Regions from separate parts of the Homo sapiens genome. Here regions 2 and 3 are each linked to region 1. The links come from fine-mapping of genetic effects on gene expression. A gene starts in region 1. Each other region holds a variant in brackets. All regions are shown on one strand. Distances are between the middles of the regions. Region 1 holds the start of RTCA-AS1 (RTCA antisense RNA 1). Region 2 overlaps RTCA (RNA 3'-terminal phosphate cyclase). Region 3 overlaps DBT (dihydrolipoamide branched chain transacylase E2).

Evidence for each region. PIP is the estimated chance that this variant, and not a neighbour inherited with it, causes the effect. A credible set is the group of variants that fine-mapping cannot tell apart.
Region 2: its variant is the best candidate, but not a certain one, in a credible set for the expression of RTCA-AS1 in adrenal gland (GTEx, PIP 0.51).
Region 3: its variant is the best candidate, but not a certain one, in a credible set for the expression of RTCA-AS1 in atrial appendage (GTEx, PIP 0.67).

The regions. Positions count from the first base shown.
Region 1 is chr1:100,264,636-100,267,402 of GRCh38, forward strand. RTCA-AS1 (RTCA antisense RNA 1) reads right to left here and starts at 1,539. Exons shown (of 3, transcript NR_110435.1): 1 at 1,369-1,539; 2 at 1,194-1,282; 3 at 107-612. RTCA (RNA 3'-terminal phosphate cyclase) reads left to right here and starts at 1,581. Exons shown (of 11, transcript NM_003729.4): 1 at 1,581-1,785; 2 at 1,889-1,989. The coding sequence starts at 1,741. RefSeq lists enhancers at 1,272-1,821, 1,390-1,749.
Region 2 is chr1:100,286,913-100,289,679 of GRCh38, forward strand. RTCA (RNA 3'-terminal phosphate cyclase) reads left to right here. Exons shown (of 11, transcript NM_003729.4): 10 at 187-291. Among named protein-coding and RNA genes, the nearest start is that of MIR553, 7.1 kb to the left of the region's middle. The variant G/A (reference allele first, on the strand shown) is at 1,622.
Region 3 is chr1:100,240,265-100,243,031 of GRCh38, forward strand. It overlaps DBT (dihydrolipoamide branched chain transacylase E2), which reads right to left. Exons shown (of 11, transcript NM_001918.5): 2 at 497-620. Among named protein-coding and RNA genes, the nearest start is that of DBT, 8.2 kb to the right of the region's middle. The variant C/T (reference allele first, on the strand shown) is at 1,476.

The DNA of each region.
Region 1 (2,767 bases):
CCTACTCCCTGTTCTTACACCCCCTCCCCTTTTGAAACCCTTAATAAAAACTTGCTGGTCTGAGACTCAGGCGGGCATCATGGTCCTACCGATATGTGATGTCACCCCCGGTGGCTCAGCTGTAAAATTCCTCTCTTTATACTGTCTCTCTTTATTTCTCAGCTGGCCAACACTTATGGAAAATAGAAAGAACCTACGTTGAAATATTGGGGGCGGGTTCCCCCAATAAAGATGTCAGATAGGGGTACAGCTTTTTTATATTCCATCCCTACCATCATTGCCTTACTTCAACTTCTGATTATTTCTTGCTGGATAATTGTATCATTGGCATTTCTCCCTTCAGGCTCTTAAGCCTCTTATTCACCCTTCTCCTACTGCCAAAGCCTTCATTTTAAAATGCAAGTATCATTACTTCTCTGATTAATATCTTACGGCAAATTCCAGATTTGGTTAAGTACATAGTCTGTGTGTTCCCTAAAACATTCTCTGTCGCAAAGCAGCAGAGCGTTGGGATTACCAGACAGTGGTGTTCACATCAGACCACCCAGGTTCACATCTCAGTCTTCTAGTTAAAATTGTGTGACCTTGTAGCAAATTGTTTAACACAGGAAGCTGTAAAACAGTAAAAACAGTAAGTACTTTATCATGTTATGAATGCATGCAGTGCACAACACCTAAGTGCTCAATAAGTGTTGCCTGTTATTGTTACAGTATATTATTAATATATTGTAATTGTCCCCATAATAAACTCTAAATACAGTACATGTTAATTATTATTGAGGATGACATTGTAATTGATTACGTCTCAGTCTCTCCATTATACCTCCAATAACTTCGGGGGTAGAAGCTGAATTACTCTTTTTTGCTTCCCTAGAGGTTTACATATTATTTGGTACTCAATTATGTAGGAACTGAGCCACAGGCAGAACCAAGAAGCTGGCTATTGCTTCTGCCCTCGCCTGAGGTGAATTGTTAGCTGCACTGTTCCTGGGAGTCAAGAGCTTGCACTCACTCTCAAGCAAAATGGCATAACTTTGGCTTTTCAGAATATTAAACTAGTGATTCTGCCTTTCCCGCCTCTCAAATAAATGGTGTGTCACCCTAGAAAGAAAGATAACACACTCCGCATACACAAACACGCACACCGCAAGGAACCAAAGGCCAAGAGTATCAATGTACCAGGGCGCACACACTTCGAGAGACAGGTTCGGTGCATCGCAGGATCCCAATCTTTCTTGCATCTTCAGCTCTAAAAGTCGGCACCTCGGGGTATGCCAGGATCCTCGAGAAAACAGATATAAACACATATTTACCCACAAAACAGAGATAAAGCACAAGCCTGCGGGATAACTGGAGGAGTTATCTTACAGTTGAGACTTTCTGCAACCTGCAGATTTTGCCGTGCCCAGGGCACAAGTTTTTCAGGGCTCCTGGGCACCCCCGCGACCGTCATCTCACTTCCCCGGCAGCTTCCTCGCCCCGACCGCAGTGTTCCCAGCGCGGCTCCTTTAAGCCGAGCTACGCGCATGCGCACTGACTGCGGAACTGGGCGAACCCGGGGGTTCGTTTCTGCTGACTCCAGTGTCCCGAGAGGCGCCGCTTCTTCCGCTTTCTCGTCAGGCTCCTGCGCCCCAGGCATGAACCAAGGTTTCTGAACTACTGGGCGGGAGCCAACGTCTCTTCTTTCTCCCGCTCTGGCGGAGGCTTTGTCGCTGCGGGCTGGGCCCCAGGGTGTCCCCCATGGCGGGGCCGCGGGTGGAGGTCGATGGCAGCATCATGGAAGGGGTGAGTACAGAGCGAAGCGGCCGGGGCTGCAGCCTAACTAAGGAGGGGAGCTCTCACCACCGGTGTGCTTACTTCTCTTCTCCCTGTACCCCAACCTTTGCAGGGCGGCCAGATCCTGAGAGTCTCTACGGCCTTGAGCTGTCTCCTAGGCCTCCCCTTGCGGGTGCAGAAGATCCGAGCCGGCCGGAGCACGCCAGGCCTGAGGTAAATCTGGCTGGAGGGGGAGTTGGGCCGTGAAGCTGGGGGATCGGGGGGTCGGGCTGCCGGGCTGGGGCATCGGGAGTCCGAGTGGTGGAACCCAGAAGGTCCCAGACGCAGGTATGGGCGATCCAGGGCGGGGCACTCTGCCTGGGCGGTGGCCTGGGTTGTAAAGTCTTGAAAGCCTGGAGGGGTGAGTTTAGAAATGGTCTCGAGTTTTCTCTGTTTGACTAAATAGTGTCATTTGCTGAAGAGCTAGCTTTTAAAATGTTTTCTCACCTCACCGGGCATTCCAAATATCCGAACAGCACGTATGAGCTGGCAAGATAGATAGGGCAGAAATGCTTGTGACGCCAGAGGAAACCCTGTTTTATAACCAGTGCATTCTGGTTCTGCTGTCAGTTTTAGAATCATAAAACAGGAAAGAATCCTGAGATGTGTTATCCCAGCCTTCATTCATACCTCCAGAGAGCTGTTATGACCAGAATTATCTGTTGTGGAGAGGGAAACACCTTGACATTTGACCTTATTTCTTCTGTCTGGGTAGCTGGGCATGCCACTAGTTGAGCTTCAGGTACATGCACCTGCTAGAAGAGGACCCAGGTTTGAAGCCACACTGATTGCTTTGTATGTATTCTGTATTTATTACATTTTAATAAATCAGCGGTCTCAGTCTTTTGTCTACAGTTTTGAAATTACCAAAAGGCAATTACTGATATGTTAATGTTAATTGCCTTTGTCATAGTTTGCAGCCCTCCAGTTCACCAACAGGGGAATCCAATTC
Region 2 (2,767 bases), 22 kb after region 1:
TACTCACAGACTTAGGGTAACATAGGTTTTCTGTCATCTTCTGAGTATGTCTGGAAACCTAAAGAAATAGAAATTCTGTTTTAGCAATTTTTATTTCTAGTAGTATTTTTATTATGGGCAGCAGTGGAATTATAATGCCAAATATTAATAAATGTGTGAGGTTTTTCTTTGTTCTTTTTTAAATAGCTGATTGTTTTCATGGCATTAGCCAATGGAGTTTCCAGAATAAAAACAGGACCAGTTACACTCCATACGCAAACCGCGATACATTTTGCTGAACAAATAGCAAAGGTGAGTATTCTATCAGAAAGGGAAATTGATATTTTGATTTTTATTTTAGCCAATTTTGGGTTAAATTTTAATAGGAAACTTAATAGTAATCATAATTGCTATCACTGTTTCCTGTGTGACAGGCACTGAGCTAATTTAGCAATTTATCTAAACTGTCTACTCAGCATAACTATTGTAGGTGGCTATTTATTATTATTCCCATTATAAATATGAGTAAAGTGAGGCAGAGAGATTCATTAAATTGTTCAAGGCCACATGGATTTTTAGTGGCAGAGCTGAGCTTTGAGCAAACCTGGGAAAGCATACTTCAAAACCCATGTTATAATCACTGTGTGGTACTGCCTTACAGAGTAAGTAAAGATGTTTTGTTGTGAACTATGATATCAAATCACAAGGGATTCATAGTTGGCTATAAAAAAATTTATATAAAATTTTAGACATTTTATTTTCTTGATTCTATTGGTAAAATAGAATATTTGTTGAAACTAATATTCACTGTCCTCTGAAATTTAGTAGAGTTGACGTACAGTTTTTAATGAAGAAGGATTTATCATTATATGAGCTCATATTCATACCTTTCCTACAGGATTCTTTTTTTTTTTTTTTTTGAGACAGGGTCTCACACTGTTGCCCAGGCTGGAGTGCAATGGCATGATCTCGGCTCACTGCAACTTCTGCCTCCCAGGCTCAAGTGATTCTCCTGCCTTAGCCTCCCAAGTAGCTAGGATTACAGGCACATGCCACCACACCTGGCTAATTTTTCTAATTTTTGTAGAGATGGGGTTTTGCCATGTTGCTTAGGCTGGTCTCAAACTTCATAGCTCAGGTGATCTGTCCACCTTGGCCTCCCAAAGTGTTGTGATTATAGGTGTGAGCCACTGTGCCTGGCCTGGATTGTTAATTTAAAGAAACAATAGGTATATTTCATCATGAAACTAATGTAATTTCTTTATAGGAAATAGAGGGGAAAAGCCTTCTCATAATTTCCCCTTGCCGGTAAAACCACTGTTGACATTTAGGTGTTTTCCTCTTCTCCTAAATCGTTTCTCTTTGCATTTTTTGCAGTTAATGCATACAACTTCATTTCTTGCTTATTTCAGTAACATGTAGCATATTTCCCATTTTGCTTATTCTTTATAAAGTAATTTTATAAAGAAATATAAAATTTGTAACAATTTTATAAGGGAAGTTGCTAATCTTAAGCATTTTTATTATTATTGTTTTTGAGACAGGGTCTCACACTGTTGCCCAGGCTGGATTGCAGTGGCACAAACCTCCTGGGCTCTCAAATGATCCTCCCACCGCAGCCTCCCAAGTAGCTGGGGCTACG[G/A]GAGTGTGCCACCACACCTGGCTAATTTTTTGATGTTTTGTAGAGATGGAGTCTTGCCACATTCCCAGGCTGGTCTTGAACTCCTGGGCTCAAGCAGTCCTCTGACCTCAATCTCCCAAAGCGCTAGGATTACAGGTGTAAGCCAGCATGCCCAGCCCTAGTCTTAAGCATTTTTTAAAGTGACAAAAGTAACATATATTAATTTAAAAAATTAATCATTACAGAAGTGTCCCATACACAAAACCACTGTTGCTGCCCTACTCCTATTTGTATGATGATCCTTTTTCTTTTCTTTTTTTTTTTCTTAAGATAGAGTCTTGCTCTGTTAGCCCAGGTTGGAGTGCAGTGGCACAGTCTTGGCTCACAGCAACCTCTGCCTCCCAGGTTCAAGCAATTCTCATGCCTCAGCCTCCAGAGTAGCTGGGATTACAGGCGTGTGCCACCATGTCCAGCTAATTTTTGTACTTTTTAGCAGAGACAGGGTTTCACTGTGTTAGCTAGGCTGGTCTCAAACTCCTGGCCTTACGCGATCTGCCTGCCTTGGCCTCCCAAAGTGCAGGGATTACAGGCATGAGCCACCGCGCCTGGCCTTTCTTTTTTTTTTTTCTTTTAAGAGACAGGGGCTTGCTCTGTTGCCCAGGCTAGATTACAATGGCAGTATCATAGCTCACAGTAGCCCCGAACTCCTGGGCTCAAGTGATCCTTTCACCTCAGCCTATCAAGTAGCTAGGACTGCAGCTGTGCACCACCACACCCTGCTAATTTTTTTTTTGTTTTTGTTTTTGTTTTTTGAGAGACGGGATCTCCCTGTGTTGCCCAGGCTGGTCCTGAACTCCTGGGCTCAAGTGATCCTCCCACCTCAGCTTCCCAAATGCCGTGATTACAGCTGTGAGCTACTGTGCCCAGTTTGATTCTTAATTATGTATACTTTTAATTGTTATTAAGAAACATAGATAAGTTTTTGTTAAATTGTAGGAAAGACTGATGGGAATTAAAGGCAAATTGTATTTGATGTCAAGAGTGTTAACTCTATTTTTTTTGTTACTCTACTTATGCTGTATTTATAACTATTACTTGTCTGTCTCTCCTTATAGATTGATCTCCTTAATAGCAGAGATCAGGTTTTATTCATTATATTCTTTACTT
Region 3 (2,767 bases), 24 kb before region 1:
TCAACAATTTACCTTGACTGAGAAAGTCATATCAATGCTGACTATTGCACTTAGATGAGCCAGATGATAAATAGATGGCCCAACACAACCCATTCCCAATATTATAAAGACACAAGTGCTGGGCGAGATAAGTTAATGCCTGTAATCCCAGCTCTTTGAGAAGCTGAGGCAGAAGGATCACTTGAGCCCAGGAGTTCAGGTTATAGTGAGCTGTGATTACACCACTGCACTCCAATCTGGGCAACTGAGTGAGATCCTGTCTCTAAAAAAAAATTTTTTTTAAAAAGGGGTGCCAGTGTTAAGGAAAGTATGTAAAAGAGAGGGATGAGAAAAAAGAAAGTGAGAACTGGAAAAATGTGGGGAGATGGGAAGGGCCCGGCTAGAAATACAGAGTCAACTTTTTTTTGTTTAAAAAGTCTCAATCAACTACTAAAAAATATTACTGAATGAGGTACAAAACATTATTTTATACACGTTATTTTGAAATCATACTTACCAGCAGTTGTTTTCAGGAAGTGATGTGGATGACTATACTTGAATGAAGGATAACCAAAGAAACACACATAATTTGGCTTCAAAACATGAACATTACCACATGTTTGAAAATAGCGAACACAAATCTACAGATGAGAAAACAAAAAGTAAAAGCATTTATAAACAACCATACCGGCTTATCTCTAAGTATAAATTGAATTTCAATTCCATTCTAAAAGTAGAACCATTGTCACAATAGAAATATTATATCCTTAGATTTAGATTTGTTACATTTATGATCCTTACCCAAAATTCCTTCTGAAAGTAAAGACATTTTAACAGTGTATTCTGTATAAATACATCAGCTTATAGGTATGCTTAAGTCATTGGACTTCCTGAACTAAAACTACTAAAGAATTCTAAAGTAATAGTTAGCATCTAAAAACAATGAAAAACTTGTATAGTATGATACCCCAAAGTTTACTTATAGTAACTTATAGATGACTCTTTAGAATTAACTATTTTACATAGTACCTTAGTATAATATTATTTTAAAATCTCTTATAGAAATAAGTAGGCCCAAATGTATTCAACTCTATATATCAAAACCTAAGTGTCTGAAAGGTATTGTGTGTGTGTGTGTGTGTGTGTGTGTGTGTGTGTGTGTGTGTATTTGAGACATGGTCTCACTCTGTTGCCCAGGCTGGAGTGCAGTGGTGCGATCACAGTTCACTGAAGCCTTGACCTTCTAGGCTCAAGGGGTCCTCCTGCCTCAGCCTTCCAAGTATCTGGGACCACAGGCGCATGCTACCCCACCCAATTAATTTTGTTTATTATTTGTAGAGACAAGGTCTCAGTATGTTGCCCAGGCTGGACTTGAAGTCCTGAGCTCAAGCAATCCTCCCACCTCAGCCTCCCAAAGTGCTAGAATTACAGGTGCGAGCCACCATGCCAGGCCATAATATCTTATTTGGAAAGTTAATATTTCAATGCCATTAGGC[C/T]AGGCGCGGTGGCTCACGCCTGTAATCCCAGCACTTTGGGAGGCCAAGGTGGGCAGATCACGAGGTAGGGAGTTAAAGAGACCAGCCTGGCCGATATGGTGAAACCCTGTCTCTACTAACAATACAAAAGAATTAGCTGGGCTTGGTGGCATGCGCCTGTAGTCCCAGCTACTTGGGAGGCTGAGGCAGGAGAATCGCTTGAATGCGGGAGGCAGAGGTTGCAGTGAGCCGGGATCGAGCCACTGCACTCCAGCCTGGTGACAGAGCAAGACTCCATCTCAAAAAAAAAAAAATTTCAATGCTATTAATACTTAACTACATCATACTGTAAACATAAACTACAGAATTTATTTACTTATTTAATTTTAAAGCCCTGAGCTTACTTCTCTGCAGAAATTTCTAACCTTCTTAGTATAAGAATACTGATAAGTGAAACTTTTTCATGTATGTAACAGAGTCACTTTTACTTAAAAAAAAAAATCATGTACATTAGTGGTGATTAGCTCTTAACTTTTAAAGGCTATGTTATAATAAACATCATATAGTACAGTCATGTTTTAATACATATTTATAAACTAGAATTTTTGTTTTTTTCTGATAGCAAATATAAAAGTAAAAGTTTGGTTTACTGACAAGAACAATACATTTAAATTCTTATTTTTTTACTTTAAATTTCAAACTATTACTGATTTCTGAAGGCAAAGAAAAACTGAAGATCCCTTTCCTAAAACATAAATAATCTTAAATCATTCATCTTAACTTTAGAGATCACCCTAAATCGACTAGTCTTTATAATATCAACATTTTATTTTTACTAACATTAATATTCAGGAAATATAAAGCCTAACTAAAATAATTAAAATTGATAACTTAAAACCAGAAGACAATAAAAGAATTCTCTTTCCCAAACATTTCCATTTTGTTTGTCCTTGCTTTCTCCTTCAGCTCCCATAATCCTGACTCTTGGTCAACAATAAAATCAAAGGAGTGAATCAACCTCTGTTTCATCAGACATAAAACTTAGGGACAATAAAGGAAAGTTTTGAAGTATATAGATTCACCTTAATTTAAATAAAATTGTTCATATTTGTAAAACATTTGAAAGAAAATTAAACTACTAGAAGGTCTTACCTTCAACAACAACACAACTCGTATTGAACTATTCATGGGTCGGGGCAGCATAAACCACCACGCTTAACATTTATTGAGTGCCTCCCATGTGCTGAGTACTTTCTTTTCAGACAGGCCAGGCATGGTGGCTCTGGCCTGTAATCCCATCACTTTGGGAGGCT